Regions from separate parts of the Homo sapiens genome. Here region 2 is linked to region 1. Evidence: fine-mapped expression QTL. A gene starts in region 1. The other region holds a variant in brackets. All regions are shown on one strand. Distances are from middle to middle. Region 1 holds the start of TTC23-AS1 (TTC23 antisense RNA 1). Region 2 overlaps TTC23 (tetratricopeptide repeat domain 23).

Evidence for each region. PIP is the estimated chance that this variant, and not a neighbour inherited with it, causes the effect.
Region 2: its variant is the best candidate, but not a certain one, in a credible set for the expression of TTC23-AS1 in tibial artery (GTEx, PIP 0.87).

What each region holds. Positions count from the first base shown.
Region 1 is chr15:99,137,035-99,142,417 of GRCh38, forward strand. It overlaps TTC23-AS1 (TTC23 antisense RNA 1), which reads left to right and starts at 2,283. Exons shown (of 2, transcript NR_186223.1): 1 at 2,283-4,005. TTC23 (tetratricopeptide repeat domain 23) reads right to left here. Exons shown (of 14, transcript NM_001288615.3): 13 at 2,283-2,365; 14 at 1-1,093. The coding sequence ends at 976. It also overlaps a transcript of SYNM not described here. RefSeq lists an enhancer at 1-231.
Region 2 is chr15:99,175,623-99,181,005 of GRCh38, forward strand. The region is part of intron 9 of TTC23 (tetratricopeptide repeat domain 23); the gene reads right to left. Among named protein-coding and RNA genes, the nearest start is that of TTC23-AS1, 39 kb to the left of the region's middle. The variant A/G (reference allele first, on the strand shown) is at 2,645.

The DNA of each region.
Region 1 (5,383 bases):
CAGCCTCATGGCCACAGTCTGTGGGACCAGGGGAGGGAGGGGAAGGGACATCACTGCCCACACCTGCACCCCTACCCCTGGGTGTTCCATCCACCTCGATCTGGCACTGGATCTCCTCGTTGACATCGTGGAGGAAGGCACTCAAAGCTTCCTGTTCGACTTTGCCATCCTCACACGACTATGGCCTCCTTCCAGGGGGCTGAAGACTGCTGTGTACACGATAGTGTGCCAACTCAGGAAGCAGCTCCAGGTGGCATCCAGGTTTGTCCTGCCTGCAGTGGAGGCCACAGGAGGGATGCGAAGCAGCAGGGAGTCTGCGGTCTTCCCCCCGCAGCCTCCGGCTAGCCTTTCTTTTCACTCCCTTACACCTGCCTCCTGGGCCCCAGGCCAAGTCAGGTGTGTCGGCCTCCTGCCCCTCCTACTGGGCTCTTTCTCAAACCCCTTTTCAGGCTCCGAAGAACTCTGAGGCAGGCTGCACTTTGAAAACACATGCTGACAGCAGCGTGTTCAGGTTTCCCTTTATTAGCGTTTTCTTCTCATGTTATTCTCAATCCCTATTAGCCTCCTATAAGAAAGGACTTCCTGAAGTTCACTGTCCAGATCTAACTCCACACCTATGCAAGGAGCTGTGTGTACAAGCAGATGCCGGGCTGACTCCTGCACAGGGCGCACTGAACTGTTGAAGAGAAGTTTTTCAGCCACAGTAGTGCTGATGGGTAAAAATTCTTGTTGGCAAGAAAAACCACTTAGGTGATAGAAAACTGCTTTATAGCATATATCACCCTGAAGGGCATCCACTGTCAAAATGTGGCCCACGGGAGGCTTATGGTCTCACTGTTGCATGTTGGGGCCAACAGTTGGCCTTGGAAATCTGTATCCTGACTGTTGAATTCCATTTTCTAGGCGGAGGTGATTTGTACAGCACCCTAAATGACAGTGCCCAGGAATGTCCTAGGCTTTTTCAGGGTGGGGGCCTCAGTCTGCTGTTGTGCCGGGCCGGGCCTTCCCCAGCAGGGTGTCCTGAGGGATGCTGGTGCAGAAGGCCACTTTGGCTTTTGATGCCTGCCTTGGCTTCGAAGCAACCTTGGGGGCCCTGCAGACAAGCAGAGGGTGGGGTGAGTGTGGTGCCCCTCAGCCCCCCACACCGTTCCCATCCAGCCTTTGCTGCCCAGCAGGTGCCCAGACCCATTTATGAGAAGACTTGGTAGGGGCTATAAATGAGAGGAGAATTGTAGCACAGAGCATAAAACATGAGATGTTTTCCTCCCATCTTTTATTTTTTTAATTTTTTTTTTTTCAGACAGAGTCTCACTCTGTCACCCAGGCTGGAGTGCAGTGGCCCCATCTCGGCTCCCTGCAACTTCCGCCTCCCAGGTTCAAGCAACTCTCATGCCTCAGTCTCCCGAGTAGCCAGGATTACAGGCACATGCCACCACGCCCAGCTAATTTTTGTATTTTTAGTAGAGACGAAGTTTTGCCATGTTGGCCAGTCTGGTCTCAAACTCCTGGCCTCAAGTGATCCACCGCCTCGGCCTCCCAAGGTGCTGGGATTATAGGCATGAGTCACCTCGCCTGGCCCCTCCCATCTTTTAAAATCACCTGTGACCATCCTCACTGAGCTGAGGCCCTCAACCCTTAGCTGGCTTGGTGAGCAGGACATGGGTGAGGAGGATGGTCAGGGTTGCACTGGAGGCCTCCCTGGCTCGCCTTCCCTGCCCTCAAAGGGGATGGCGCCCTGCTGGCCAGGTTGTGTCTGCTCCGGGCTGTGGCCCTGTTTCCCTGAGCAGACTCAGGCAGCCCTGGGGCTGCTCTCTGCGGACCAGGCTCTGTGAGGTAGGCCCTCCACGGCAGAGCGCTGGGCCTCTGCTCGGGCTGAGAAAGGACGTAGGGGCCAGCCTTTAAGGTCAGTCAGTGAACCTTCCGGCTCCAGTCCTGACGGGCATCCGAGGGCAGAGGGAAGCCGGAAGCAGGGCTGCAGGAGGCCACAGGGATTCCCGGGGCCCTCCCCCTGCAGCAGGTGCCTTAGCCTGCAGGGGCTGGTCTGCAGGAAGACAACATCCAGCATATATTTCTGACTTAAAGGATGAATTATTTTTAAATACCTGGGCAAGGAAGATCTTTTACAACTCGGGTTTCAAAGGAACTTGTCCTTTATGCAAGTTATGGGAAGTCAGCAAAACATTCCAGAGAAGGTTACACAGAACCTTCTAGAACCAGCTTTCTCTTGAGATTCTGAATGGAAAGGGAATGAGATAGAGAAAGTGTGAGGGACGCCAACTCACGTGGACAGCATGCCCATGGCCTGCTGGGTGGCCAGAGTCCTTTTGTCCTGCGGTCCATATAAGAGGGTCTGGATCTGGAGACACTGTAGAACACCAAGCAGCTATCATGAGGCTATGGAAGTGTCGCTGAGAGCAGGAAACTAAGGTCTCCCTTGAATGAGAGAAAGATGACCTCATTCTTAGGCCCTGCTGTGATGGAATTAGCATGCTCCTGGGATGTCTCCTAGTGACTGACCTTTGGTTTGGATGTTCTGAGGGATCTAGGCAAAAGTGAACAGTTTTAGCACTATTTCACAAAACTCTCTGTGACTATCTGTATGCAAAAAATAGATTTAAAAGTAGTATTTTTAAAAATAAAGGCAAGAACCTTGGTACTGACCAGAGGATGGGCTCCAGTTTCTATTTTTAAATGTGGCCCTTGTTATAGCCTGGAAAAGATTTAAAAAAATAGTTTTGTTTTTTTTGTAAACACATACTCTACTTTTATTAATATATAGGCTGTCTATACTCTTGACTACACAGCAATGTCTTAGTTATTAGGAACCAAATATTCAGCTTATGGACTACCCAGGGCTGGCTTTGGCTTGATTTCTCCCTTCTGCTTACTTTAAGTCTTGCCATTTGATTGCTTGTAGTAGGCTAGGGCAAATCAAGGAGAGGAGAAAGATTAAAGTTGTGCCCAAAATGGCCAAAATAATTTTGAGAAAGAATGAGGTGGAGAGGTGGAGGAACTTGCTTTACTGAATGCCAAAGACCCTTTTATTTTTTTAAATAAAGTAATTAAGACAGCATGTTTGTCACCCGGGGTAGACAAAAAGACCAGTGGAACAGGGCAGAGAGCCCAAGCCTTGACAGATGACAGAAATGGCCTTGCGGGATTGGTGAGGAAGAGGTGGGCTAGTCAATAAATGGGTACTGGGACCGCTGGTTTTCCAAATGGAAGAAAATGGATCACTACCCCAAATCAAACACAAATATTAAGCTCAAGAAAGATTTGAAGGACTAAGTGTGAAATGCAAAACTTGGAGCTTTTAGATGAAAATACTGGAAAATATATATATATATATTTTTTGATGGAGTCTCACTCTGTCGCCCAGACTGGAGTGCAAGTGGGGTGATTTTGGCTCACTGCAACCTCCACCTCCTGGGTTCATGTGATTTTCCTGCCTCAGCCTCCCGAGTAGCTGAGATTACAGGTGCCCGCCACCACACTCAGCTAATTTTTGCATTTTTAGTAGAGATGAGGTTTCACCATGTTGGCCAGGCTGGTCTCAAACTCCTGACTGCAGGTGATCCACCTGCCTTGGCCTCCCAAAGTGCGGGGATTATAGGAGTGAGCCACCATGCCTGACCGGAAAATACGATCTTGAGGTAGGGAAGTATTTCTTAGACAAGATCTAGACAAAGCAAAAGTGAAAGACTGATAAAATGTAACTATGTGAAAACCTAAAATATTTGTGCACCAAAATTCACCATAAGCAAAGTAGAAAGACAAGCCACGCTGAGGAAAGATTCTTGCAGTGCACAGAAATGAGAAAGGTTTAACATTCAGAATACATGAAGAATTCCTATAAGGTAATGAGAAATACCAAACCAAACCAAAACCTCTCAATAGAATAACACTCAAAAGATATAAACAGATTATTCAAAGAGTTGAAATCTGATGAAATAAACATGCTTAATCTCATTAACAACCAGAAATACAAACTAAAACCTCAATGAGGTAGGTACCATTTCACCCACCAGACTGCAAAAACTACCAAGTTTTGTTAAAGATACAAAGCAACAAGAATTCTTTTATATATTGATAGTGGGTATTCAAACTGGTATAGCCCCTTTGTAAAACAATTTAGCAATATTTAGTAATGAATATGTAAACTGTGATATGTATATATTATATATGTATGTGATATATAAATGTTTGATATATGTATGTGTATATATAACCACATAGATGAATCTCATGATTACAAAGTCAAGGGGAAAAAGAAAACGACAGATGAATGCATATAATATGTATTATAATTTAATATGAAGTTTTAAAACATGCAAAACAAAACCATAGTAAAATAAGAAGAGCATGGGAATGATATCAAATTTAAAAAAGTAGTTATCTGGGGATGGGGTAGGTATAGAGGGGACTTCAACTGGATGGGTCATGTTTTATTTCTTATACTGAATGGTGAGTTCAAAGGTCTTTGTTATGTTATCCATACTTTTCTGCATAACAAATGTTTCATAATATATTTTTTAAAAATCGGATGAATTGTGCTACATAAATAGCTTGAGTAAAAAAAAGTGTGAGGGTTTGGGGACTTACTACTGAAGCCTGTTTATTCATTCTGATCTGCCAACCATTTTTAGGTCTTCAAGAAAATTAAAATGCAAGCAGCCAAATGCCTTTGTCTTTATAAGCTGTGGAAACTATAAAAACTGAATGTTTCAGTCTGAGGAATTGAGAATGTGGTTGTCCTTTGAAAAAAGTAACTATCAGATGAGAATATGACAGGATTTTTTAAATAACAGAAAATATTCACTATTTCTTAGTCATTTGACTAAGAAATATACAATATCAAGAAGTAGTAAACTCTTCTTGTTCTTTTATTTAATGCATAATTCAAATTCTACAAAGGCAAGGATCCCTGTCCCTCTGTCCAACAAGCCCTTGACTTTCTAAATCTGCACGGGGACCTTGGCCTGGCCTAGGCAATGGGCTGAGCTGCTCATTCCATGGGGTTGAGCCAGCATTGCTTTAATGCTTTAGGCTGTTGCGACCCTAGAAATTTAGGAACTTTGACTAAGCTCCGTTGCTCTGAGGGGAGGGGATGCGGACATGTTTTTGACAGCCATGGTACCTGATGAAAACCCTTCCAGCACCCTGCTTGGGTTACAGCTATTGGAAGCCTGGGCACACTGGGCCTGGCAGAGGAGGTGGTGCTCAGAAAGGGCCACAGAGCAAGAGAGGCAAGATGCTTCCCCCACTGCCACCCATCAGTGAGAGGCCCCTCTCTCCAGGGTTAACACTTCTTACCAGAATAGACTCTATTTTGCCCAGAAATACCTTCACTCAGTGTAAAAGATCAGGGCTAATTTTAAAGCCA
Region 2 (5,383 bases), 39 kb after region 1:
CCTGCACCCTCTACAAACTTGCTCAGGGGAGCTGCCCAAGCACAGAAAGCAGCTCAGTTCCTTGAAAATAAAGTCCACTAAAATGTTGTTGCCCAGGCGCGGTGGCTCATGTCTGTAATCCCAGCACTTTGGGAGGCCAAGGCAGGTGGATCACTTGAGGTCAGGAGTTCAAGACCAGCCTGGCCAACATGGTGAAACCTCATCTCTAATAAAAATATAAAAATTAGCCGGGTATGGTGGTGCACGCCTATAGTCCCAGCTATTTGGAAGGCTGAGGCACGAGAACAGCTTGAACCTGGGAGGTGGAGGTTGCAGTGGGCCGAGATTGCACCACTGCACTCTAGCCTGGGTGACAGAGACTCTGTCTCAAAAAATAAAAGTTTTTAAACAACAAACAAAAAACTATGATCTTCTGAACATAAAATCACAATAGTCCTTTCAAATAACATGCAAAATACCTGCTTTCAAATAAAAAGTAACTACTCAACTCCCTGTCAGCATTTGGAGTTTTAAAATACTATTAGTAACATGTTTACATTCATTCACACTTAGGATTGCCTACTATAGGAGAGGCATGGGCTAGAAAGTGTGTGCAGTACAAAAAATAAAATACGGTGAAGTAAGATAATACACTAATGTGAGTCAGTAGGTAGGTAGTTCACAATTAATTGCCAAAAGAGTGACAGAATACTAAAATGCCATGAGTAGGCCAGGCATGGTGGCTCACAACTGTACTCCCAGCAGTTTGGGGGACTGAGGCTGGAGATTGCTAGAGCTCAGGAGTTCAAGATGAGCCTGGGCAACATGGTGAAACCCTGTCTCTACAACAAATACAAAAATTAGCCGGGCATGGTGGCATATGCCTGCAGTCCCAGCTACTCGGGAGGGCTAAAGCGGGTGAATTGCTTTGAGCCCGGGAGGTTGAGGCTGCAATGAGTTATGATTATGCCACTGCACTTCAGCCTGGGTGACAGAGCAAGACCCTGTCATACACAAATACACACAAAAAGATAAAAAAGGAAAACACTAGATTGGGATAGGCAAAACACACTAGCAATTCATAAGATGTAAGCTGCACTTTAATTCTTTTTTATTTGTGATACCAATTTTAATTTTCTTGATAATTGTTATCTTCATTTTATACATGAGAAAACTAAGATTGCTGAATGGGTGATTATGATATCTCACAGCTAATAAGAGATAGAGATAAGAGTCTGACCCTGATCCTCTAACTTCAAATTCTGCTATCTCTATCATGTCCTGAGTGCTGCCATTCCCCCCACCCTAGCCAGTGGTGGGAGACATCACTAATTGATGCCAGCACACTCCTCAGGGAACCCTAATTCAGTCCTCAGGAGCTGTGATTCATCTATGGCAGCTGGCACAGGAGATCAAGTCATCCCAGTTGAGCATTCTAGTCTGGACCATGCAGTACTTCCTCCTCTTATGACCAGCCGAATGCATTTCTGAGACTATAATCAGAGCGGAGATAGAATCTTTGACTCTAGACTGTCACCTTACTTGTCACATGTTAAAATCTGCTAAGCTACTAGCTCTGGACTTTTTATGTTGGGGCTACTCCAAAATAAGACTGCAGGTAATAATTTTTATTGCTGCATTAGAATAGTCAGAATTTCTTATTCATAAGTGCCAACAATATCCTTTGCTTTAAAATGACTTTTCTTATTACAGAATATAAAGAATTGAATATGTGATTTTGGCAACCCCAAATTAGCCACTGTCCTTGATTTGGCATGAAAGGCCCAATCTTAAGGTCTGACTTAAATGTTTTCCAAATAACGGGCACTATGAAATTCAACTTCATGTGTATATAGACAATAGCAGCCACAGGGATAGAGTCAAATTATTGCTTGTGTAGTGTTTGGAGAAAGGAAAAAAGAGGAAATACCCACACCCTCCGAAAAAATACCAAATGCAAATTGAGCCATGTTTACTTTGCTTTTCCCCTACTATCTCTACGATCTGTTATTTGGAGAGAACAATCACTGTGTAATGCCAGAAAAGCTTTAACTCATATGATGCAAAGACATATAGTATTTTAGATTAAAACCAAAACAAGAAAGATTTTATATTTTGTTTCTTCCTATTCAATATTATAAATTCAAGAAAATGTTAATAGATATGTGTCTAACAAAATTATTTTCAAATCAATAATTACATGTTCTGAAAACACTGTAAGTTGTTTTTTTGCCATGGAGACAGAAAGCAAAGTTTTCCAAGAGCAAAATACACACAATATCAAGAAAGTGAGTCAGGCTGGGCATGCTGGCTCATGCCTATAATCTCAGCACCTTGGGAGGCCGAGGCAGGAGGATCACTTGAGCTCAGGAGTTTGAGACTAGCCTGGGCAACATAGTGAGACCCTGTCTGTACTAAAAAATAAAAAAAATTAGCCAGGGGTGGTGGCATACACCTGTAGTCCCAGCTACGCAGGACGCTGAGGTGGGAAGATCACTTGATCCTGGGAGATCAAGACTGCAGTGAGCCGTGATCGTGTACTGCACTCCAGCTTGAGTGACAAAGCAAGACTCTGTCTCAAAAAATAAAAAAAGAAAGTGGGTCCTGAAAGCTTAAAGGGATCTGAATTTATCACAAAATTTTCATGACTTAAACATTTTTCTAC[A/G]TGAAATGCTAACATAAGCAAACATTTATTATTCATTATTCACTTCAGAAACTCAATCCCTAATGTAATTTATTTGATGTTCATGAAGCTTTTATAAACCATATGCTAGAGGGAAGGGGGTTTGACGGGGGAACACCCAGGATGTCTAAAATGTGCAAAATTAGCATCTCATTTATTCAGTAAAATTCAATTTAATTCCATTTAATTTAATTCAGTCCTATTCAACTTATGTTCATTTTTAAATGCTTTCTACATGCCAGATATTGTGCTAACATTAGAAATTCCCCTAAAAATTTAGGCAGGAATTTTAGTTTTAAAGGAGCTCACATGTGAACTACAAAAATGTAGGATAGTTTGTATTTTATGCAGATTTACAGACACTGCCCCTCACTAGGTTTTTGCACCCAGCTAACTGACTTCCTATCTACCCTTACTCTTGTCATCATTTCCCAAGATTTCAGTATGCATGAGATTGGCCTGTACTCAATCAGGCAGGAAAGAGATGGCACATGTAAACAGGTTAATGGAGGAAAAGAGGTCAATAAAATGATCCCTGGCATGGAGGAAACCCAAGATGAGCACGCTGGCTCCCAAGACAAGGTGCTGGGGGCATTTGCTATAACCAGAAAGAAGAATTGTAGGGAAATGAGCGGTGGGTTTCAGTAGAGACACGGCCTACCTGCAGGGACCTTGAGGGGAGGGGCTGGAGGAATGGATGCTCTGTCTCCATGTCTTCCCTGGTCCAGGCTGTGTATCTCTCAGTCTGAGGGAAAGGGCACTGAGATGGTAATTAAAGGTCAGCCTCTGGGGCACAGAGCAGGGCTGAGAAGGATGCACAGTGTAGCTGAAGGACCACACGGAAATGTCCAGCCAACGACCTAGCCAACACCTTGGCCTCTCAGGTTTCTGACAAACTTACTTTCCTCCTTACTCTCAGGTGCCCAGTCCCTGGGTCACACTCCAGACCTCATCATCGCCCACTCTGTGTTACCACTGGATCCTCCAACTCACAGACCCATTTTGGCTCTTGGGGGGCCCTAGATCTATTGCCTCCATGCACATCTACTCCACCGCCCCCTGACATTCTCACTAGTCATCCAACCCTCCTGCTGTCCTTCCCTTCTTGTCCAGCTTAATGGGCACCGCCCATTGCCTGTGTTGAAAATGCCCTCCACTGATGCATTAATTGAGATGGTAAAAAATGGGGAACCACCTAAATATCTATCAGCAGGGGAATGAACATATTGTGGTTTATTCTACAAGTTCTTGATTGAACTCCATCTACATATGTTAACATGGTTGTATTTCAAAAACATACCACTGAGTGAACGAAGCAACTTGTAAAAGGATGCAAACACCATGGCACCATTGATTTTCAAGTTTCTTTTCTGGAGCAGAAGAACCCAAACAAAACCTTCTGTGGTTCTCAATATACACAGCAGGAAAGAGCAGAACAGCCGCTCTCACAGAAGCAGGTGGAGGGGCCTGGAAGTCTGACTACCTGCTCCCAGCTAGCTGCCCCAGAAGAACCTCCATGGAACATGAGGGCTCAGGGTGACACAGATTGAGAACCACAGCACATGCTGGGCAGTGAGGCTTCCTTAGGGAGTGAGTGCAAAGGACGTTGACAATGCTAGTGTTTAGACTACACTGTCTTTCCAAACTCAACCATTGTTCACAATTTTCAAACAATGCTTCATTTGCTGAGGGAATATAAATACCCTGTTACATGCATCTGAGAGCATTTAAGGACTAGGAATCACAGTTAACAGAATTACAGGCATCCTGCTTGCCTCTCCTGGATTTCTGCAAGAGATCAAGTAATGGGCCTCGCTGGGGCTCCATAGTTTGACCACACTCACTCCTTCTCCTCAGGATTTATTAATCTCCCCAGGGCTTGCATTTCCCCTCATGTCTTTTGTTCTTTTCAGTATCTTATGGTTACATTTATCAACTGTCATCTTGAAGCTGAGGAGGAATGTTTAATATCTCCAAATCCCTTGGGGTGCTGGCATGTTGGACTGGGTTAAAAACAAAAAAAAACTTCTAATATTCCACATTGAACAAGGTCATTAATTAAAAAAAAAAAAAACAAAACTCATCCACAAGACCAAGGACCTCAACCCCTGCCAAGGCACAGAGCAGCTGTTCCATCCTGGTGCCTTGTATGTATGTCTGGGGGAAACCACAGATTCCTCAGTGCCAATCAAGCTGTCGACAGACACAGCCAGAGCTGGCAGGCTTTTATCTAACTGGGCCTGTCCCCTTGGATTGGTAAAATGTGTAATATTTCCTAAAGAGAAAGCCTGATGACTAGTGAAAAGGATGAGAGACACTTCTATTTCTGCAGGCAGACCCCATCATCTGAACACTCAACTTCAAACCCTGGAAGGAGTCTGAGTGTGGAATCCCAGCTCTTGGGGATGGGGTGGGTCTTGGGGGTTAGGGAAATATATTTTCCCCCCACTTTGTAATAATTTGGGGTTCAGTGACAGAGCAAAATCTCTCCTACAGCAAAGTAGAGATTAAGTACACAAGAAGATCAAGGTACATTTGTGGACTTAGCCTGAATGTATTTACTCTGGAGATGAGAACACTCAGCGAGGAGACAATAGAAGTCTTCAACTTAGTCACAGCCAGGATCTCTTTGTACAGCTGAGGGTGAGCACTGGAGGGACACAGGGAAGGAGGGAACTAACATCGATTAAGCACCTTCTTCTGCCAGGTGTGGTACTAAAT